Linked DNA regions of Homo sapiens: all the other regions are linked to region 1. A link means that fine-mapping ties the variant in region 1 to the expression of a gene that starts in the linked region. Tissue or cell type: whole blood. Region 1 holds a variant in brackets; each other region holds the start of a gene. All regions are shown on one strand. Distances are from middle to middle.

What was found. PIP is the estimated chance that this variant, and not a neighbour inherited with it, causes the effect.
Region 2: it holds the start of VWA8, and the variant in region 1 is fine-mapped to the expression of VWA8 in whole blood (GTEx, PIP above 0.99).
Region 3: it holds the start of DGKH, and the variant in region 1 is fine-mapped to the expression of DGKH in whole blood (GTEx, PIP above 0.99).

The regions. Positions count from the first base shown.
Region 1 is chr13:41,716,970-41,725,078 of GRCh38, reverse strand. It overlaps VWA8 (von Willebrand factor A domain containing 8), which reads left to right. Exons shown (of 45, transcript NM_015058.2): 25 at 3,504-3,709; 26 at 5,337-5,488. Among named protein-coding and RNA genes, the nearest start is that of MIR5006, 150 kb to the right of the region's middle. The variant G/A (reference allele first, on the strand shown) is at 4,073.
Region 2 is chr13:41,956,466-41,964,574 of GRCh38, reverse strand. VWA8 (von Willebrand factor A domain containing 8) reads left to right here and starts at 3,466. Exons shown (of 45, transcript NM_015058.2): 1 at 3,466-3,722. The coding sequence starts at 3,560. VWA8-AS1 (VWA8 antisense RNA 1) reads right to left here and starts at 3,406. Exons shown (of 4, transcript NR_039974.1): 1 at 2,341-3,406. RefSeq lists a silencer at 3,387-3,796 and enhancers at 3,997-4,136, 4,232-4,732, 4,733-5,233.
Region 3 is chr13:42,045,535-42,053,643 of GRCh38, reverse strand. DGKH (diacylglycerol kinase eta) reads right to left here and starts at 4,996. Exons shown (of 30, transcript NM_178009.5): 1 at 4,679-4,996. The coding sequence starts at 4,870. RefSeq lists a silencer at 4,690-5,219 and an enhancer at 5,760-5,849.

The sequences.
Region 1 (8,109 bases):
AGGGAGAGAGTTGGTTACTGCCAACTCTCTAACAACATTGAACCTACACATGTGCAGCTGAATGTGGTTAGAAAAAGCCCAAAACTGACCAATCTCATTTCAGATTCTTAACAATGGGCCTCAAGTGTCCCTAAATGCAGTCACACCGTGCTTCGGTAGACCTTTCACTTTCCTGTTCTCCTAGGGTAATTCATATCTTCTCTCTCCTCGCAGCTCCAACACTGCTGCATGAATTTCTTTTTGTTTTAAAATTATACAATACTTGAACATTCACTTACTGCAAGAGATTGAAATATAGAAGGGCTTATGGAGGGGAAAGGGAAATTCTCTTTCATTTTCCCACCAGTCTCATTCCTTCCCCATTGCTAACCAGGATTCAGTTTACTGACTTTCTTTTAGATTTCTGTTATTTTCTCCTGTCTTCCTACTGCACTGAGAAAAACGAAAGCAATTAAAAACAAATGTCCACAGACTCCTACAACCAAGTCTTCCACCTATGATGCCCTGCTTTCCCACTTGTTGCAGGTAAACTGTTCACATTCCCATCTAGAGGGAGTCCCTCCAGATGAGCACCAGATCCCGCCTTTTGAAGGTTGCTGCTCTAGCTGTTCTGCCCTCCCTCTCCTGTATCAGCAGCTTCCCTCTCCTTACATTATTCCCATCTGCAATCAGGCTATTTCCTTCATCTTCAAAACACACACACACACAAACCTCTTAATCTTACTCTTTTTGCGATCTATTGCTACTTTTTTCTTCTCCTTTGTAACAAAATTCCTCACAGTCATTTGTACTCAAAAGAGTTGTCTACACTTGCTATCTCCGTTTCTTCTGTACCATCCTCACTTAATTCCATTCTAATCAGATTTTTGCTCCCATTACTCCACAGAAACTGTTCTTATCTAGGTCATTAGTGACTTTTCTATTGCTAAATCCAGTGGTTGATTCTTAGTCCTCATCGTACTGAATCTACCAGCAGTATTTAATATAGTATATAGTTGATACAGTTAGTCACTCTCTTCTCCTTGATGCATTTTCCTTCACTTGACTTACAATACTTCTTCAAGTATGTTCTTGGTTTCTTACCTTAATAACTATTCCTGCTCAGCCTTATTTGTTGGAGCTTGTTAGAATGTCCCAAGGCTCAGGCCCTGGTTCTCTTACCTATCTATACTCATTCCTTTAATAAAATCAGAATGTGTCATGTTTTAGACTACCAATTATATGCCTGTTATTGCCAAATATTCATCTCCAACCCAGACCTTCCTCCTGAACTTCACACTCATATCCAGCTTCCAGTTCAATAGCTCCTGTATCTCGAATTTAACATGTCCATGATGAACTTTTTTTTCTTAAACCTGATTAATTTATAGTCTTTTGTAAATCTCTGTTAATGACAACTCCAAATTCATTTTTTGTTTCTCTCTTTCTCTTATGCTCTTTTCCAAATATCCTGCAATCTTATTGGCTATACCCTCGAAATATATTCAGAATTATCTTACTTTCCCCATCACTTCCATTTGCCACCATTATGATCTGAGCCACCATCGTCTCTTACCTGGATTACTTCAAATAGTCCCCTAATGGGTCGCCCTGCTTCCAGCCTTATTCTTTGTTATGAACTGTGAAAGATCTAAGAGTTTACTCTACTTTTAAGCTAACAAGTTAGCCTGCCACAGAAGGCTTTCATGGCAGAAGACACTAGACTCCTGAGTCACAGACAAAAGAGGAATGATTATTCAGCAAAAGCAGTAGTCAAAGTACCAGCATTTGTGTTGGTTCCTCAAGCCCCACTTCCCACAGGGCAACAGAAAGAGGGCCAAATGATACCTGCACTTATAGTGAGATGCCTTATAGAAGAGGAACCCAGAGCTTAGGTAACCCAAATTACCTTCTTACAAAGAAAGAAAGAGAGAGAGACAGAGAGAGAGAATATGTTTTCCAAGGCTGCACTGTTTGCTCTTCAGATATTCTTGGAAATACAGTCAATGTGGTCAGTGCCTCTGCTCACAAGATATTTATCTTCCTACACCCTTTTGTGGTGTGTTCACAGCACAGTAGTCCACGCCTCTGCTAAAATCCTCCATGGCTTCCCATTGTATTCTGAGTAGAGGTACAAGTATTTACAACAGTTTGCAGTGTCCTACACAGTATGTCTCCCACATCCTCCTATGTCTGTAACCTCGTGTCCTGTACTGCTTGGTGCTGCTCTATCCACTTCCTCTATTCCATCCACTCTGCTCTCCTGCCTCTTCCTTCCATATGCCAGGTATGCCTGCCTTAAGTTCTTTGGATTAGCTGTACCAGCTGCCTGGAATGCTCTTCCCCCAGGTATCAACATTTGCTCAGATATTACCTTCTCATGAGGTTTACCTGACTGACCTCCCCCAGCATCACCATTTCTACTGTCCTAATTAATCATTATTTGATGAGTAAATGAATGAGGGGTCAATTGTCTTTTTATGTTAGTGATAGGTTTTATTTTCAGCAAAAAAGGCAAAAGCCATTCTTCACCTTTGTATTTGAAAAGCTTTAGTATATGAGATAAAATTTTGAAGATATCATGGCTTTCATTTTATTCAATTGCTTTTAAATACACACATACAAAATAACTGTTCAAATGGTTCCTAAATCAAAGTAAGATCTTATTGCTACCTTACTAGATATCCTCATTTTCTAAAATGAACATATTAAATAATGTAAGTCTATTTACTTTTACTTCATTTGATCCCTGGTCTCTTAGATTATGAATCAATAGAATTATTTTTCTAGTACATTCTCATTTCCCTAAATTACAGATGAAATATTATTATGTTTCTACATTCCTTTTCTTGATTTTAATTCAGACAATGTCTCTACAGGTTTACTCTACCAAAACTAACCTCTAAAGTATATTCTATCAATCTGCACAAGATACAAATTTTTTAGAGAGTGATGCTACTAATTCTCCCTTTTTTAGTACATAAAGAAGCATTTATATGAGATAGATGTATATAATTTTTGAAGATACTCAACATTTGTTGAAGTTAAAAAGGCCGTCTCAGAACCATTTGAAATATATATTCCCATTAATAGAAAAGGAATAAATTATCTAAACTCTGTTTGCATGTATGCATTTTTTTAAAAAAAGTGCTAATACAGGTCTGGAAAAATAAATGCGCTAAACATTAAGACTCAGTGCTTTTTGGGGAGGGAGTGGCATTGGCATAGACTTAAAGGAGAATTTTTTTTCCTCTTTGTATTGGAATATCTCCCGGTGAGCATGTATTCAAGTATTATGTAAGTTTTTTAACAAAAATAAATTCGTGGAGATAAACCATCCATCACCCAGTTTTCTTTTCTTTTGCTTCAGTCTTTTGCTTTCTTCTCTGTACCATCCTATTGTTGGATGGGCTTTCTATGCTTTGATGAGCAACCAGTGGCTCTTTAAACAACCATTCCATTTTTTCCTGTGACATCGTAATGGATTTGTTGCATACTGAATGTGAATCTTTTCTCTCCTTTAGGTGATATTTTTAGCTGCCATGCAGTTGATAACCCCAAACCCCACTCGGAGCTCGAGATGCTCAGACAGTATGGACCAAATGTGCCTGAGCCCATCCTTCAGAAGCTTGTGGCTGCCTTTGGAGAGCTGAGGAGTTTGGCTGACCAAGGGATTATTAACTATCCTTATTCTACCAGAGAAGTTGTCAACATAGTCAAACATTTACAGGTAGGTATGGCACACACCTGTACCTAAGAGCCATCACTCTCTTTTTTATTTTTTCAGACTGTACAGTTTGTACCAGAGTTTTTAATTTCCATAAATACAATAATGAGTCAGATTACATGATTTGAAATGTGTATAATCTAAGTTATAAATATGGTAGGCCAATGAACATTATTATCTGTTCAGCTTTTGAATTAACTTTGGCAAAGTCTGTAATCATTACCAAGGAGTTAGGAAATTTGGTGGGAGGCTGTTAGAGGGCAGGTGAAGCAAGAGAGTGAGTCAGTGGGGAAACCTTCCTGTTCTGTTCTTTGGCTTTTTACAACAAGCATGTGGTATGCAGGTAAAAAATATTTTCATTTTGAA[G/A]CAAATCACATGGAGACAACAGTAAACAGAGTAGGAACTAACCGTACTGATTAAATACCTGTAAATACCGCAAGGAAGTTTCACAAGATAGAGTAGGCAGGAGAATGAAATTTCCTGCGACCATGTACAATGTGTACTCCACCTTAGTAAAGAAAACAAACAAATAAAAAATAATATAAATCTTACTTACAGAACAAATAAGGGTCTCCAAGCTAACAGTCACAACCCAACAACTCTTGACCTCTGCCTTATCCCCAACCCTCCAAGAAAACCCTAGAAAGAAAAGTAGAAAGGTGGGGCAGGGAGAATACACACAGGGGAAGATGTTGATCCAAGGATACAAAGTTCCAGTTAGACAGGAGAAATAAGTTTTTGAGATCTATTGCACAGCCTGGTAACTATAGTTAATATCAATGTAATGTATATTTTGAAATTGCTGAGAAAGTAGATTTTAAGTAATGGTTGTACCATAAATAAAGGTGTGTTAAATGATAGATATATTAATTAGTGTGATTTAACCATTCTGTAAGGCATACATACATTGGAATATCACATTGTACCCCATAAATATATACAGTTATTATTTGTCAATTAAAAATATATGGAAAGAAATCAAGATTAAAAATAACAGCTTTGTTCTGCCTATAAAACCGTAAGTCCAATTCAGCCAGCTCAGAACCCATCACCTAAAGAAAATCAAAGCAGACCCAGGAAAGGACTCAGAGGACATGAGCAGTGTAAATTCAGTTGTAGTCATACTTGTTTTCTTGCCCTCTACTGCTCCCTGTTTCTCTGTTGTTTGCACTTTTTATGTTCTTTCCTTCTTTTCTTGTTGCTTTATCTTTTCTTCTTCATTTATTCATAGACTGACTTTTCTGAAAACTTCAGTATAGATATTTAACACGCTCCTTTACATAACTAGCATTTTTAAACTGTTCGATCTGGTACTCATATTAAAGGCAGGAGATTTCAGAAAGCAGTGGCAATCACTGACACCAGGATCTAGGCACTGCTCTAACATTTGAGAGGAGGAACTCTTTCCCCTCAAATTCTGGCATTTATTTAAAAAGGAAAATATTGTTAAGTCATCTGAGCAAACACTGAAAGGGAAAAATGTCTACATTCCTACTACCTGCTTATTTGACAAGGCCAGTAAATTTCTGCTGTAGTTCATTTGATCATTATTGTCCTATCCATTTCATAAATCTTTATAATGTTGTATATTTTATCACATGCATAATAAGGGAATTTTTTTTTAATACAGAAATTTCCGACTGAAGGTCTCTCCAGTGTAGTTCGAAATGTGTTTGACTTTGATTCCTACAACAATGACATGAGGGAGATATTGATTAACACTTTACACAAATACGGGATACCTATCGGAGCAAAGCCTACCAGTGTGCAGCTGGCAAAGGAGTAAGGCAAATTCAGTACTCTTCTGATTCTTAAATGCTGATAGTTCTTGATTTATCATTCCATTCTACAAAACTGAGTTGCTATGGAAATTACTTTCCATGAGTAAGCTTTTCAAATACATGTATATGTTGCTGTTTGCTGGCTGCTTTTCAGTTAAATAGCATTATTTATAGGCCTGTAAATTGAAAATTTTGATTATTATGTATGTCCCATGAGTAGATGTAATAAATAAAGGGAAATATTTGTTTCTTTAACAGTCTCAGTCCTTTTGTTGAATTACTATGCGTATTACTATTTCGTATAATCCAGTGCACATCATTGTACGAGCATGAAAATCACATAGAGATAATGTACATTTAGTTGATATGTTCTTATTTCTGTTACTATATAGTTTTCTTTATGATAATTTTCTAAATTTATGATCATGTTAACTAGAGAGATTTTTGGTTACTTATGTCAGCTTCATAGATGAAAGAGGTAGTAAGAACTAGTGGGTTTATTTCATGTGAGCTAGTTGCCTACCCTTTATTTTATAATCATAGGCTACTACTTAATGTTAGTTAAGAATCTTGCACATATGGTGTTGATCAGAAAAGTAATTGACAGAGTTTTTTAGTAGAGTAATTAAGTCAGCACAAATTCACTAGAAAATAGTTTTCAATATGCCTAACTTATTGATAATGCATCTAATACCATCTTTGTCTATAAAAATAGTTAATTATAAATTCATAGGGGATAATAATCACTTTTAAATTACTGTTCAATTTTAGCCCCAAAAGGAGACACTATCTTTCTGTAGAAAAAAATGTGTTAAATATAAATATAAATCACTGATTATATATTAAATATAAATCAGTGATTAGCAAAAAAAGTTGCATATATATATATATATAATCTCCAAAGTGTATACTCATCCATATTTATTGATTCTTTGAAGTCATTATAAAAACTTGTCAGGATATATGCCAATAGAAATAAATTATTAAAGTATCAGGAATTTCTAAAAGAGAAACAAATATTTCCCTTCTGTGTTAAAAGAATAAGATGGACTTATCTTAGAAATTATATTATCCGTGCATTGGTTTATATTATTAATGAATAAGTAAATTATTTTCCAGAAGAATGACTGGGTGGCAGTTGCAAATGCACACTTTTTTTTGGCACAATGCTATTTTACTGATGGATTAGCAGTCCTTATGGGCATTTGAAACTAGGTCAGTAATTTAATGGGTATAACAAATTGTCTGTATAAGAGAGTTCAAGAGATCCTCTTTAATATGCAAACTTTCTATTATAAATTTTCTTTAATATGCAAACTTAAGTTATTTACTTCGTTTTTGTAAACTCCCTTTATTTTTAGCTGGAAATAAGATGGCTTTTATTACCATTAACAAATTTATATAATTAGAGTACTGGCTTTATGGAAACTAAGCTCATGATTTTAAAACAATTTCTTTTTCTACTCTTGCATGACTATAAATAAAAATTAAAATACATATTAATTGGTAAGGTTAATCATGATAAAATTTTTACTTATAAAGCAATTTTAGTTTCTAAGGAAGAAACTAAAAATGGTTTAACTTATTCATTGTCATCCTCAGTTCTAAACAGAAAAATTATTGCTATGGCAAGTTAATTCTAACTCTAGTACTTTTGAGTAGAAGCAGAAGTACTTTGAGCCTGGAAACAAGTTGGTCACACTCTTGCATTACAAGGGGATAGAAACAACTAGTTGTCCCCCAACCGCATATAGCTAGAAATAGACTTAAGCAGATGTGAAGGAAGAGTGAATTTTCCTTTTAGAAGGAGATCAGAGTAGGCTATAATTTCCACAGTCATTCAGAGCAATTTTTTCCTCATCTGTTAATTGCAATAACTTAGGCTGCTCAAAAGTAGTGTTGTTTTATTGCCCTTCTTGAAATTCACAGGTTCCGTAGCAATTTCTATCAAATTATCAGCCTTGTACTTAGAGAGAGTAGGATGACAAAGTGTAGCAATTTCTATCAAATTATCAGCCTTGTACTTAGAGAGAGTAGGATGACAAAGTGAACAAAGTAATGGCCTGGGAATTTAGCAGTTAGTCATATGTTCACCTGTCTACCTGGATCAGCCATGGAGAAACAGATGACAAGACAGAATCCTGCCCTCAAAGAGCTCACCATTCCATTTTGGTCATTTGAATTTAGAGAAGTTACTTAACTAATTCTCTATTGGTACAGAGGGCCTTTTCTTATACATAGCATATCTATTTGATTTTTAAAAATATTTTAAAATATTTGAATATTTAAATATTCAAATATTTAAAAATATTAAGGAAGTACACTGGGAGAAATTATTTTTAAAAATATTTGATTTACCATCTAAATCAGGACATTTTTGAGAAAGGCAGGGGGAGCTATTGACAATAATTCTGTAAAAAGAGTGTAAAATAAGACTGCCCTGGCCAGGCCAGAATATGCAATTATCTTCATTGTGGATCATCAGTAAGGTTCCTTTCTATTCTAACATCCTTTGAATTTTAATATAATCTTAATGTTTATCTCATCTGCAAAAACAAACATAAAAATATGTGATACTAACACTTTTCATTCCCCCTTTCCACCCCTGCCCCCCAAGTAGTG
Region 2 (8,109 bases), 240 kb before region 1:
TCAGAATCTCTGGGTGCAGGGAGGAACGAAACCCTATAATCTGCATTTTAATAAGTTCTCCAGGTAATTAGGATGCACACAAAAGTCTGGGAACCAGTGGTATGAACCTTTGATTTCTTAGCTGGGGTAGACAGTAGGGAGGAGTGGAGCACCCACCTTTTTTCAGTCAGACATAGCATGGAAGGATTATTAGTTGCATTTTTCATCAAGTTACATTAATGTGGTATGTAAAAAATATTCCTCCCAAACTCTGGAAAGAGCTTGACAGTCAATACTAGCTTTTGGTAGTGTGATTTTCTTTTTTCTTTTTTTTTTTTTTTTTGAGACAGAGTCTCACTCTGTTGCCCGGGCTGGAATGCACTGGTGCGATCTCAGCTCACTGCAACCTCTGCTTCCCGGGTTCAAGCGATTCTCCTGCCCCTGCCTCCCGAGTAGCTGGGATTACAGGCACCCACCATCACGCCTGGCTAATTTTTGTATTTTTAGTAGAGATGGGGTATTGCCATGTTGGCCAGGCTGGTCTCAACTCCTGACCTCAGGTGATCCACCCATCTCAGCCTCCCAAAGTGCTGGGATTATAGGTTTGAGCCACTGTGCCCGGCTGGTAGCTTGTTTTTTAATAAGCATGTGATCAGATATTTTAGTGAGAGTTTGAGAGACTTTACACAGATTGTGATGAACATCTTTTAAAACAAAACACCTTTGGTTCTTCTTTAAAAACATTGTGAAGGTCCATTCTTTCCCATTCAGTCTCATTGCCATCAGCACTGTTCATCATTTCAAGTAGAGACTATTTTTACTGCCACGTAGCTAGCACTTGATGCTTCCTGTCTTCCTAATTCAATTCATAGTATGTCACCACCTAAAACACGATCAAAAAGTCCAGTAGCTGCCCAGTTTGCTCATCGGATGAAGTCCAACTTCATCCAGCTACTCAAGATTCTTCACTCTGTAACCTTCTCCTCCTGCTCTGCCAACACCTTCTACTACTTTCGAAAGATTAACCTCCTCATCTGGCTGGTCTCATGGCCCCTGTAACTGAACTCTGTCAGGACTCCAAGCCTCTACTTAGGCTCTATACCCCGCTTCTCTGTGTATCCAGTCCTAAATGGCATTCAAAGTTAAGCTCAGGTGCTGCCTTTTCTCAGGCTCAAAGTTTTCCTCCCCATTGTAGCTTTGTCACTCTAAAAAACCTTCACCATTTTTCCATTTCCTGGAGGTTAATGTGCAAACTCCTTCTCTTGGCATACAACATGGCCCCAGATTCTCTTTCTGGTCTTATTCTTACAAACTGTTGTATATACTTGACCTCTAGACACACTGAATCACTCTCTGGTTCTCAATCATGCCCTGCACTTTCAGCTGTTTCTTTCTCTCTCTCTCTGTACATGATCTGTCTGCCAGATTTGACTTGTCTCAGCCTGACAAACTCTTGTATAATATATCCTACATGAATCATTTCAAACACTACCTTCTCTGTGAAGACTCCAGGTGCAGCAATCCACTCCACAGTATGTTGAACCTAAATCTCTTGACACGTGTCTCACTGTATTGCAATTCTTTATTTGCATATTTATCATCAATACCTAATGTGAGCCCATTGATTCACAGTATCTAGCAGGGTACTGTTTATACAGCAGTTACTCAATAAATGTTGTCGTTGGGAGGCTGAGGCAGGAGGATCACTTGAGGCCAGGAGCTTGAGACCAGCCTGGGCAACATAACAAGACTCCACTGCTACGAAAACAAAAACACAAAAATTAGCCAGGCACAGTGGTGCACGCCTGTAGTCTCAGCTACTAGGGAGGCTGAAGCAGGAGGATCACTCGAGCCCAGGAGTTCGAGGTTGCAATGAGCTATAATACTGCCGCTGCACCCCAGCCTGGGCAACAGAGTGAGACTTTGTCTCTAAAAAAAATAAAACTAGGCAAAAAATGTTGTTGAATGCTCTAACTTGTGTTGATCTCTCCATTGTCTTAACTCCAAGAGCTCTTAGTGCTTATATCAACCACTTTGCAAAATTGCCTTAGGTTGTTCTCCCATTCTTTCAGGTGTCTACTGAGTTCCAGCGAGATTAAATGGAGATATCTTGACCAAGGTATTCAATTCTTCTAGCCTCAGTTTCTTCATCTGTAAAACGGAGGATAATAATAGTACCTCAAAGCATTTTTATGTGAAATGGGATAATTCATTAAAATCTTGATACATACAATGTGCTCAAAGTAGGAAAAGCATTTTATAAGCTTACATCCTAAATTTATGTCTTAGGGTTGCTATGAGGATTAAATGAGAAGATACACATGAAACGAAGTCATAATATATTGTGTAACTACTTATTACCTTTATTTTCACTGTCTCCTCATCTAGGTTAGAAGCCTGGTTCAGCCTTCATTCCTCAAGTTCTTCCGCTGGATGCCCAAAGCCTTCCTTACCTAGCCTTGTTTGACTTTTACAGTCTCCACTCTAACACTCTCTTCTCAGCACTCATCACAGGGTCAGGCGCAGGGTAGGTGCTATGTATTTAGACAGTGGCAGCTCTAGAATTAGCAAGGTCTTTAGCTGAAAGTGAGGTCTTCTGCCTTCTTTTTGATGTTTGCTTGTATAACTTGTCTCAAATATTTTGCCTTAGTCAATTCACTGTGACATTTTGGGGATGCAGTCTAATTACATTAGGCTTAGTTTGCTTTGTGGTAGGACCATTTCCGATGTTGGAATGTACAAGAGGGAGGCAGCCTTAGCCAGTGTCCTACTTTTTCCTTTACTAAAGACATAAATCATCTTTATATAACTTTTGTATTACAGCATGACTAGAAAAGTGCTTGATCTGGATCCTTTCTGATATTTAAGCAATTTCCATCTATCACTAAGATGTGAATTTTTTCCTTAGAATTTAGGAAGCGGTAATAAAACACAGAAACAAACAACCACCACCAAAAGGACAAAGGGTAAAGCTTTCACGTACGGTTTGGAAACACTAGTGTGGTTACAATGAATCAAGACAGTTGTGAAAGTTCCCATCATCTTGTGCATGTTTTCTCCATTTCCGAAATCTGAAGCCGAATACAGGGAAAGCTCCCTATACTTACTGGGCCTTTAACTAAGAAACGAAGACTTGGGGCAAGCATCTGAAGAGTCACACCGACAAATGCTCCTAAAACCCTTGGCATTTACTGAACTCCTGAGATTCTGTGGGATCGCAGGGAAACGGCGGGTGAAGGCCTGGTGCATCCAGGTGAACAGACAGTCTCACGGACTGCGAGGCGCTTGCCAGAGCCCAGCGCCGCAGCTCGGAGCACCCCCGCGGTGCGGGCAGTCCCGGGACGGTGCCGGCTCTTTGGGCTGGAGCTCCGCAGGCTCTTTCCGCCCGTCTGGGCCATGCAGGGCCGGGTAGGGCCGGGCTGAGTCTACTGAGCCGGCCGCGCCGCGGGGGAAGGAGTTTCCGGCGGACTCGGCTAGGTGCCGCTTCCTGTCCCCTTCTCCGCGCTGCCTCACGGTGCCTGCACGGGACGCCGCTCGATCCCCGAGCCCCCTCGCCGTCCCCGACAGCCCCCCCGGCGCCATGCAATCCCGGCTTCTACTCCTCGGGGCACCCGGAGGCCACGGCGGCCCGGCCTCGCGGCGCATGCGGCTGCTCCTGCGGCAGGTGGTGCAGCGCAGGCCGGGTGGCGACAGGCAGCGGCCGGAGGTCAGACTGTTGCACGCCGGCTCGGGGGCCGACACAGGTAACTCGGGGTGCGCCCCTGTCCTCCCTGGTGCCCCTGCGCTCCGTGCCGGGTCCCCGCGCGCCCCCGCCCCTCCTCTCTGTTGCTTCGCTGCGCTTGGAAGGACCGTTTGCCGAGCGGGGAGCTGAAAGATTGAGGTTCTAGTCCCGACCTCGGCGCTAACTGCTGTGTAACGTGGGGGCAAGGCGCTCGCCCTCTCTGTGCCTGATTCTGCAACCCGAGGGGTCTGGACTAAGGTTTCTGATGACCTAGAAGAGTGATTTCTCCTTCCCCTGCCGCTGCCTTTACCCCCAGAATTCTGACTTAGGTTATAATACTCGTAGAGGTTAATGCCTCAGCCCTATGGAATTATTGAAAGCTGGATTTGACCTTGCTCTCTGAGCCTCAAGGGCCTGGAAGCCGGTCTGTGTCATGTTCTAGCCAGGGCTTGTGGCGGCTTAGAAGGGAACATTCTTGCCAAAGAACCCATAGTTCACGGTGTTTTAAATGCATCCCCGAGCCTTTCCAAGTTTTACAGGAGTTTTCCTTAAAGTTTCACGTAATTCTTAGAGCTGACAGTTACACCTTAATTTAGTTAAAACACTTGCCTCTACAAATGAGGTAATTGAAACCCAGAAGGGAAAAGTGATTCGCTGGAGAACACACAACTAATTACTATGCTAGAATCACATGCTTTGATTTCTAAGCTCAGTATTTTTTGGCTCTACTTGAGCTGGTTTTAGGAATTCTTTTTCTTGTGTGTTGGTGGAGTTAGAGTTACTGTGATGGTTAAGGAAAGGATATCTGTTGTTGCTACCCTTGAATGGTGAAGTGATTCCAGACAAGATTTTGTCAATGTCAGTGCTGCTTGGAATAACAGGTTTTCACTATGAAATTGTAGGTTTCGTTGTCCTCTTGCATTTTCCCCGCAACCCCCAGTTTTCCTTGCTAAGAAATGAGCATATGGGCCGGGCGCGGTGGCTCACGCCTGTAATCCCAGCACTTTGGGAGGCTGAGGCGGGCGGATCACGGGGTCAGGAGATCGAGACCATCCTGGCTAACACGGTGAAACCCCCGTGTCTACTAAAAAGAAAATACAGAAAAATTAGCCGGGCGTGGTGGCGGGCGCCAGTAATCCCAGCTACTCCGGAGGCTGAGGCAGAAGAATGGCGTGAACCCGGGAGGCGGAGCTTGGAGTGACCGGAGCCACTGCACTCCGGCCTGGGCGACAGAGCAAGACTCCATCTCAAAAAAAAAAAAAAAAAAAGCATATTTAGGTCCCACGTATTTCGTTTTATTCATTGAAGACATACACCACCCCCGTCCCCCACCATAGTGTTGCAATTTCAAATTTTACTTTTTGTTTTTTTTTTTTTTTTTGCTTTTTCTCAATTACTCTCACTTCTGGGCTGTTTATTCATTTGTTTTTTACATTTTTTGTGTGTTCTTTATTTGTTTTTTGCTCCTTTGCCCTAGAAGGCAGAGGTCAAAGGTGGAAGTATAGCATAAACTATAGGTTGGGTTTTGGAGTTAAACAATTTGGGTTGGAATCCACTTATCCACTATCTAACCATGGGTCGTTGAGGGTAGGTTACTTAACTTTGTGTCCTAGTTTTCTTAACTGTAAAAGGATAAGAAGAATATATCTATTATGGTTGTTGTGAGGATTTATTAATTAATATAATCTGTGGCACATATTAATGCTCAATAAAAGTTAGCTTTTTTATTCTTAGTATGTACAGTTTTAGCTATTTGAGAATTATTCTGTTTCCTTGCCTTTAGAAGACATGAAACCAAGTTTGTTTAGATTCAGGACTGTTCAGACTATCTGGGTAGGCAGATTTAGCCGAGTGAATTGACTTGAACTTTTTAAAAAACAATTGTTCTTTGTACATGGATAATACATGTTGATTGTAAAAACACATGTGGGTGTGAGTTTTTAAAGTCTGTATTATATACGTATTGGTAGATAAGTTGTAAATGTCCTCAAATTTTGTTATAGCCAGTAAATCAAAGTATAGGCTTTGCTTCAAATGTGAGAGTCATGGACATATTACAGAGAACATACTATCTTCTTTAAATCAGTCATTTACTCTGGCAGGATCAGACCAAAAAGAGGTATTTTTTGAGGGTGTGAGAACTGTAACTGAATGCAGCTGGGAACCCACCAGAGATCTGGACTTGAGTAAGAGCAGTTGTGAGCCAGGTAAATGGACAGCACACTTTTGGCTACTCTGAGGCCTGAGAGTAAGGCTATCAAGATGGAAGTGTCCCATTTTGAATCAGAGATCATACATGGACAAGTGTAAAACTACAAATAGCAATAGGCCATAATGGATTACATCTTATGTTGGGATGATGCTCTCAGCTGCATTCATACATGTGACCAGTAACTGATTATCTCCTCTCTCTGTAATTGACATTGCTTCCTAATAGTTTGAAAAAAGAACAACAAAGTTCATAAATAATATATTTAAGTTATATACTGCTGTTATTTCTCCTGGAGTATTTGTTTTGTTTATCTATATATTCGTTTGGTGCCTGCCAACACTTTGTACCTAGTAAGCATTCAGTGGCTTATTTTGTGAAAGTTCATACAGAGAAGGAGCAGGAGAGGCTGGAATTGTCGTTTGCTCTCAAGAGAGGACCTTTGTTAAGCCTGATAAGCAGAAGGAAAATAGGTCATTTATGTTAAAAACAAAACAAGCAGATAAACTCAACCCAAACCCACTGCTTTTTATCCTGTGCTGTCAGATAGTATAAGTATCTATAATTGTAAATTCTTTATATCTCTTTATACTTCCATTAAAATTACTGTCTCTTGGTTTTAAGAGCAAAGAGGTTAACAAGGATATCTACTGCAGAGAGTTTTCAATAAAGATTATTGTAGTGTTTTTACAGATGGAGCCAAGCAAGTTGTTTCAGTGGGACTCTGATGTTAAATGGATTCAAATATACTATAGATCAAATGATAAACCTAGAAACATAACTGTATAAATATATCATGACATTTTGGTGCTTTCCTTTAACGCCATTATTATTAAAGGGATTCACAGTTTTTTCTTTATGACTCTTGTATATGAAGTAAATTTGTTTATAGAAATACCCTAAAATACTTTTACACAGCAATCTATGTTTATTATAGAAGAGTGATAAGTACAGATTCCCTAAAACATGATCCTCCCACCCAAATTTATAATTATCAACTTTTTAGCATTAATCCTATCAGATTACATATATATGTATAATTATTTATTTATTTATTTTTGAGATGGAGTCTTGCTGTGGCACCCAGGCTGGAGTGCAGTGGAGCAGTCTTGGCTTACTGCAACCTCCACCTCCTGGGTTCAAGCGATTCTCCTGCTTCAGCCTCCCAAGTAGCTGGGACTACAGGTGTGCACCACTGTATTAATCTGTTCTCACACTGCTATAAGGACATGCCAGAGACTGGGTAATTTATGAAGAAAAAGAGGTTTCATGGACTCAATAGTTTCGCATGGCTGGGTAGGCCTCACAATCATTGTGGAAGGCGAAGGAGGAGAAAAGTCACGTCTTACATAGCGGCAAGTAAGAGAGCTTGTGTACAGAAACTCCCCTTTATAGAACCATCAGACCTCGTGAGACTTTTTCACTACCACGAGAACAGCACAGGAAAAACCTGCCCCCATGATTCAATTACCTCCCACTGGGTCCCTCCCATGACACATGGGGATTATGGGAGCTAGAATTCAAGACAAGATTTGGGTCGGACACAGGCAAACCATATGAGCCACCCCAGCTAATTTTTGTATTTTTGGTAGAGATGGGGTTTCACCATGTTGGCCAGGCTGGTCTCGAACTCCTGACTTAAAGTGATCTGCCCATCTTTGCCTCCCAAAGTGCTGGGATTACAGATTTGAGCCACTGTGCCTGGATGATATGTATATTTATACAGATACATTTTTTTAAAGAAATGGGATCATGTATGTTTTATAATTATTACATCCATTATTGTGAACATATTAACATGGTAATAAATATCATTGTACATGATTGTTTAAAGTAGTTATTAAGTTTATATGTTTGTCCATATAATTTATTTTACTGTCTCATTCTTGCACATTCATGTTGTCTAAAATATATAAACAATGCAATAAACATCCATCTACATGAATTTTTGTTATTTTAAGATTATATCCTTGGGCTACAATAGGATTAGATAGAAATAACTTTGAGGAGGGGAAATATAGAACTGTGGCTTCAACTGAGAAATACAGTGTAAAGAGGAAAGAACTATACTGTGGTTTTGGTCTAAGTTTTGTATTTATCAGGTATTGAACCTTGGGGAAATTATTAACTACTTTAAACCTGCAGCAGGTTATTTTGACCCTGAGGATATTCTGACCCCATTGTGTATTCAAGAATTTAA
Region 3 (8,109 bases), 330 kb before region 1:
CGTCTCAAAAAAATATATATATATACATATATAGTTATATATATACATATATATAGTTATATATATACATATATAGTTATATATATACATATATAGTTATATATATACATATATAGTTATATATAGTTATGTATAGTTACAGTTCTATACATATAGTTATATAGTTATACATATAGTTATATATAGTTATATATATAGTTATATATAGCTACATATAGAGTTACATATATAGTTATATATATACAGTTACATATATAGTTATATATAGTTATATATATAGTTATATATATAATTAGTAGTAGTAGTAAGATTTTTTTTTTATTTTACTTTAAATTCTGGGTTACATGTGCAGAACCTGCAGGTTTGTTACATAGGTATACATGTGCCATGGTGGTTTGCTGCACCAAAAATATATCTTAATCCAGATAGAATACTGGTGTGTTTTTTGGTCTTCTTTTGGGTTTGTTTTTTTCTTTGAGATGGAGTCTCACTGTTGCCCAAGCTAGTCTTGAATTCTTGGGTTCAACTGATTGTCCTACCTTGGCCTCTCAAAGTGGTAGGATTATAGGCATAAGCCACCGCCCTCAGCCTAGATAAAATGTTGATGCAAAATTCTGAATATCTTTTTAGTGTTTAGGTATGTTTTACCTAAATTTAGAGACTCATTTGTGGCCATTAGCTGTAAGAAGACATATAAATGTCAAAAAATAAAAAATAAATGAGAACACAATAAACCTCATCAGGAGTATTTTTGACACATGCAGCTTCACAACCTTAGCCGAGATGACCCAAAGGCAGAAAAAGTCATTGAGATGGTTCCCATTTGTTTATACTGTTTGGTTTATGATTGTTGAACAATCCTAGGCTGTAAGCCTGACCAAGTTTCTTCCAGCCATTCCCATAAAATGAAAGGTTGCAGTATTCATGGGCCAACAAAAAACACACAAAGCTTCTTTCACATTCATCCTCAAAACCCAATTTGTCTGAATCTGTATTAGCGTTGTTTCAAAAATATCTTATTCTCAGTAAATACCTGTGAAATTCTCTACAACAGTATGTCTGAATGCAAATCCAAAAACTCAAGAAGGTAAAGAGGGGGAAGAGATATGACAAGTGTTAGGACTCCATTTTGGCTTTCCTGCATCAGCACCACTTTCACTTTTGTACATAAGTGACTTTTTGTCTTTGGGAAATAAAGGCAGGCATAAAATCATTTAGTGTTTAGCACCTGAGTGGCTAGATGAGACCACCTGAAATTCCACTTAGGTTATTCAGAGAAAGGAAAAAGTTCAAAACAGAGGAAGAGGAAAATAGTAGAGAGGACAGCATAGACATACAAAGAAACCAGGAATAAATGGAAAATGAAAAGGGGAACAAAAAGTATACTGTATGGAGTTATGATGAGGGTGCTAAAATACACATGAGGATTTTATTAAGCCACACTGATTTCAAAAGCATACCAGTTCCATTCTTTACTTAAAAACCATCAAATCCACTATGAAAAAGCTGAGATTAGTGCATTGTCCTAAAACAACCCATATTTACTTCTGCAAAAAACTGGTTAAATGATGACATATTAGATTGAACCATATGAAGCATTCCATATTTGACCAGTTTTGACCTACTGACAAAGCAGGATAGATGAGCAAGAACTGCTTGTGCTGTCTTAAAAATGACTGGGGCTGAGGCCGTGGCTCACCCCTGTAATCCTAGCACTTTGGGAAGCCAAGGTGGGCAGATCACCTGAGGTCGGGAGTTCGAGACCAGCCTGACCAACATGGAGAAACCCCATCTTTACTAAAAATAAAAAATTAGCTGGGTGTGGTGGCGCATGCCTGTAATCCCAGCTACTCGGGAGGCTGAGGCAGGGGCAGGAGAATCGCTTGAACCTGGGAGGTGGAGGCTGCAGTGAGCCGAGATCACACCATTGCACTCCAGCCTGGGCAACAAGAGTGAAACTCCATCTCAAAAAAAAAAAAAAAAAAAAAAAAAAAAAAGATGGCTTTGAGCTAATCTTAGGGCCTACCTCTCCTCCAGGTGCTCCCATCTTACACACCTGTGCGGAGACACAGAAAGTATTTGTCTTTTTCTAAAGATCCTTCCTTAATTCTCATCTGAATCATAATTGAAGACTGGGAACCAACGTTAAATTTAGTAGTTCTCATTCTATAAATTCCCCCTATTGCTCTCACTTTCTTCCCCAAGAATCAGTATATGTGATAAAAGACGTAAATAATGAAGTCTGTGACATACATGAACAGTCCAGTTGCAGGAGGCGGGGTATGAGGTTGAAGCTCACTGGTCTCAGAATCTTATACCCTGATCTCAAGTGTTCATATATGAAAATGTTGATGAACTTACATGCACTCTAACATAGGAGAAATTGTAAAATGCTGAATTTCTGACATTCAATACACTTTTGAAATTCAAGCAATATTTGATTTCATAGTCAAAAATGATCTCTCATGGCAAAATGTATGTGCTAAATGTTTTTATTAGAAAGTCAGATAGAAAATCACAAATAATGTGCTTTTTAAATTTACTTGTAGTCTCCATAAGCATATAATCTTAGCTATTACAACGAGCGCATGAAACCTATAAAATACAGTGGTACTCCCAACAAATTTGTTGTTTGACATGATTCAATTCAATTTAGAGCCATCTCTCAGTTTTCTTTCGAACAGTATAAATCTACTGGTTAATCCTGATATAAGTATGCATGGAATTTTGACCATTTCATATAAATATGTAACATACACGTTTGTTTGTTTGTTTGCTTGTTTGTTTAAGAGACAGTCTCGCTTCATTGCCCAGGTTGGAGTGCAATGGCAAGATCTCAGTTCACTGCAGCCTTGAACTCCTGGGCTCAAGTGATCCTCAGGTACCTTGTTCTCCCAAAGTGCAGGGATTACAGGCGTGAGCCACCATGCCCGGCCCCTATACAATTTTTTTTTTTACCTGCCATTTTGCCCATCATTAACACAGTTTATGAACTTTTTTCAGAATTAAGATTTGAAATATTAAAAACACTTTTAGGAAAGTCCCTAACTTTGTAAAAGCCTTAATCTTAAAAAACACATTAAATGCCATATTCTTAATTTACTACAAACTCAAAAACGTCACTATTAAAAGGAGTTACAAGATGTACTCTTAACTAAAGTGACTGAATCCCTAACTCTTTAGTAAGTGCATCTTGTCAACAGTTGTTCTTGTGTGTTGTTCTTACACACATGTATTTCAGAAAATAAGGAGGCAGGCTACTACAAACATTAATCCACTAGCTTTTTTTTTGTCGCTCAGGCTGGAGTGCAGTGGCACAATCTCTGCTCGCCACAACCTCCGCCTCCCGGGTTCAAACGATTCTCCTGCCTCAGCCTCCCGAGGAGCTGGGATCTCAGGTGCACGCCTCAAAGCCCAGCTAATTTTTTTATTTTTAATAGACATGGGGTTTCACCATGTTGGCCAGGCTGGTCTGGAACTCCTGGCCTCAAGTGATCTGCCTGCCTTGGCCTCCCAAAGTGCTGGGATTACAGGCATGAGCCACCGTTACCGGCCTCCACAGGCACTGAATAAAAATTATGTTTCCAAATAGGAGTTCATTGACCTTAGGGAAAATTTTTCATAAAAATAACTGTAGAATGAATTTTTTGCAAATTTATTTTTAAAAACGGTACCCCAAGCCAATGATTTTGTGGTTCCGTTTTCAATATCCTCGTTAAATTTCCCTACTGATAACAGACTCTCTCTGTGAAGATTTTTAAATTACAATGAAAATTAGAATACATAAAAATCCTTTAATATCCATAAGCATTTGCTTTGGTATGTTCATGATCAAATTAAAAATTAACTTTGAGACCTCACAGGTCGACAGCACAAGCTTCATTAACAAGAGTAACACACCATCCTAATGTCCACACAGCACAGAGGTAACTTCTCATTATTAAAAAGAACCATGGACGCATGGTTCTGAACCCTGCCTGCACTTGGCGGGAACCTGCGACACGAAAGCCTGGCCAGCCCTTGGAGCCATGCAGGGTGCGGTTAAGCCGCGAACACCATGTCCCACTTGCCTGCCTCGGGGCTTCTGCCTTCCAGACCGCAGCAGGAGGCAGAGGGGCAGGAAAGGCTGACCGGTGTCACCTTCCACCCACCCTCTGAGTGGGCCTAAGTGGGAAAGCAGCAGGGCTCACTGCAGCGCAGGCTGGTTGGCCAGCACATGCGCACGCTCCCCCGAACGGCAGGGAAGAAAAATTGAAACTCTCCTTTTAAGTTCCCTAAGTAGGAACTCGCGACTGCGCGTCAGCTTTTTCCCACGCTCCCGCCGAGCCGCGGGTTCCCTGCACCCGCCTCTGCCAGTCGAACTCCCTGGGAGCCCAGGCTCGCAGCCTCCCGCGCAGCCGCCGGGAATCCGTCCCGCAGCACCGCGGTCCAGCGCCCCCGGGCCCCGCCCCACCCCTCCCCGCCCCGCCCGCGCCCCAGGCCCCGCCCCGCCTCACCGTCTCACCATCCCCGCCTTCCCCGCCTTCCCCGCCTTCCCCGCCTTCCCCGCCTTCCCCGCCTTCCCCGCCTTCCCCGCCTTCCCCGCCTTCCCGGGATCGCCCGGCGCGTTCCAGCGCCCCCGCGCCCTCTCCACCTCCCGCTTTCCACGCGGCCCTCAGGCCCGCCTCCTCCGCCCTACCTTGGTCCGGATCTGCCCCGAGGTAGACACTTTGCGGATCAGTTTCTGGGGTCCCTCTTGCTCCGCTTCGCTGTCAGACGAATCCTCTCCCGGCCCCGCCGAGGCAGCGGCGGAGGTGACCGCGGCGCCGGCTCCGGCGGCCGCTCCTCCAGCGGCGCCCGGAGGGTGGTGCTGGCCTCCGGCCCCTGCCATCCTCTCCGACTCCTGCGGGGACACAGCACCGCCCGGCGGGGGCGGCGGCGTTGGTCAGCGGGTGGGCTCTGCCCGAGCGGAGCCCGGAACCCCGTGCCCGGCCGCCGCCGCCATCTTCCGTTTCCCTAGCTACCCCCGCGAGGTAAGGGTCGCCCGGGGCAGGCGCCCTCCAGGCAGGGGTCCACCCGGCTCCTCCGCTCGGTTCCCGCCGGAGCGGCGGCCACGGTGGGACGCAGAGGTAACGGACCCCCGCCCGCCTCGGACCCCTGCGCACCCAGCCTCGGATAGGACCAGCGCGGGTAGAGAGGATGGGGTGACAGGGTTTGGAGCAACATCTCTTCCACTCCCTTACGGTCTGGGTCCCTAGGATGGACAGGAGGGTGGGGGAGGCAGGAAACCTCTGCAGCCCACCCCGTAGTGGCGATGCCCGCACACCCCCTCTCACTTCTGGACAGCAGGGGCAACGCCGATCCCTGGGGAAGAATGGGAACCTGGAGCTTCCTCCCAGCACCCTTGGGTGCACCCGCCACCTCCTGAACCCCGAATCTCTCCAGAGACACTTGGGCCTCGCCGCGCGGTTCCAGCTGAATAAAAGTCCCCTCTGCCACCAAGACAGTCGGGGGCTGCCCCTCGTCGGTTTCCCCACCCCCAGCCCCACTCCGAGGACCGTACCTCTCCCGCCTCCGCCAGGGCCGTCGGGTCCCCTCAGCTCTCCTGACGGCGGCGTTCAGTTTCTGGCCCACCCCCACCCCCATCCGGCGCACACGGAAGAGAAGAGCATTTTCCGGGAGGTTCAGCTCCGCTCTGAGAACTTTTCGTTCAGAAAGAGCGATCCCCTTCGGCTAACAGGAAACTGGGAAGGGCGTGGAGAAAGCGCAGAAACAAGAGACTACACGCAGCCCAAGACGACAGAACGCACAAGAAGTGTCTAAGCTGAAGCGCTAACCGAGATTGCCTGGAAGAAAACAATACACTCGAGCCATGCGAACACCAGTACCCGAGACAAAAAGCCTTGGAAGTCCTGGCAGAGCCACTCCCTAGCCCGGACTAGAGCAGGAGGAAGTGGGATCAACAGGCTGTAGCCACCGCGCACAACTCCCCTGCAAGCTGGCTGCGCGGGCACTTGGGAACCGCGGACTGGCAGCGGGTTGTGCACGCTCAACGTCAAAGAAGCCTCACAGGTGTGAGGGGGCTGCGGTGAGGGGGCTGCGAGAGAAGACATTAAAACGACAGATCCCTCTTGTCATCCAAAGAGAACACCAAACTGGTGTTAGCTATATTTTTAAATAGGACAAAAAGTCCCTGCCAGACTGTGGAGTCTCTCCACCTGGAGAAAGCATTCAATCTCTGTTATGTTCATGCCTTTCAGTACCATTCCTTTCGTATTTTTTCAGTTGACATGACCTTTAAGGTTCCTCCAAACTAAGGTTCTAATTTTTTTTTTTAACTTGCAGTCTTACTCCCAACAAGAAATTTGATATATTAGAGCTAACAGTTCTAAGAAGTTTTAAGAAATAGTATGCAATCCCAATACTGGACATCACACTGTAAATTAAATTCATTAAAATGTAAAATGTGTTTAGTTCAAATATTTAAAGACAGGAGACTGCTGCTATGTAATAATAACAGAGAGGCTATTTCTGCAGCTTCTGTTGTCTCCTTTAGGAAAGGAAGGAGTTGGGCAAAATGAATTTTAAGAACGCTTAGAACTCTACAAATATGTAATTCTTTATCTACAAAGAACATATTTCTGGAAATTCTTAAAAGAGAAAAATAATCAAAATAATGGCCTTCATTCCCACCTGTTTGGTCATGGACAAGTCCAATATTTTGGAAATGTAGACAAGGACACCTAGTAAAGGGTCTTTTGAAAGAATAAACTTAGTTTAGTCTTCTCCTTTAATGTAAAGAAACTAAGGCCCCAACTGACAAACTGAGACCAAAGTCAAAATCATGCGGTTAGTATTCTAATGTTCTATTCACTTTATCACACTGTATAACAAAAGTCTGTCAGTTACCATATACTTCTATTCATACATTATGTGTTTTATATAGCAACATTTTCCAGAATCCAGGCAGCGAGTGATTAAACTGAAAGGCATTATCTAATGCCCAGCCTGATTTTGTGATTTTAACAGGTCAGATTACGCATCTCACTCTTTGATTTGAACACTGATTGCTTAAAGATACTTAAAAAGTTTCATATCCCAGAGCTGAGCCATTTAATACCTCAAAGTAAAGGTATTCCTTTCTCATAAAGATTTAACCTCAGAGCCAGCTTTGCACTTCTGCAATCACCTCTTCTGAAGAGCCAGTTTCAACGAATCCATTATTTAAGATACCTGACTTACTAGCCTCTTCTCGGTCTTATCTGTAAATTAGAAGTTTTTAGAATGAATATCTAATTTGTGCACTGTGTACCTGCAATGTACTTCACCTTCCTCAAGAGTATTACAAGGTCAAGGTCTCAATCTTTCCAACCATTTCAACCATGTAGCTCAAAATAGCAACTGAAACAATTTCAAATATGTGGTATCTTACATTATTTATTTGATTTATAAGAATTCCTTGATCTTTTCCTTACTTAGTGATTTCAGATTTTTCAGTAATTGCTTAGATGCATCTTACATTTTTATTGTTACTTTGAAATCTCTGTTCAGAACATGTGACAAACACACTATTAAAGACTTCAACATAAGCTGTGTAGACACTGCATTTAGGGTGAAATGGAAATAGGTGGTAGCTACCCCTAAATTAGGTTTTTACTTAATAGAGATCCTGGCCCATTAAAACAAAGAACACCTATTAGACTGAAGATGTGTAAGTCACAGCCAAATTTCATGTCAACTTTATGAATATTCGTGTATTATTTTCTACAGAGGTATTTTGAATTGTATTTTTACTGATCACTACTCATAACAAAAGGGGTTTTATACCCATTGGCAACTTTCAAATCTCACATATTCTATGGCTTTATCTTAAATATTACGCCATAAATACGCAGAATGTTACATTTTATATCCTGAAGAGTTCAAAGTGTTCTAGGACTTGTGTTCCTAATCAATAAGGAACCATGCAAAGAATACTGCAGGTTGACCAAGTACAGGCATTGAGAAGCTGCCTTAATTAAAACTTAAGAACACGCTATTTGCTACATATTAAGAATTTAACATTCGAAACTTTTAACCTATTACCATTTCCTTAGTTGTTACCTGAATGAAAAAGATTTGGGGATTAAC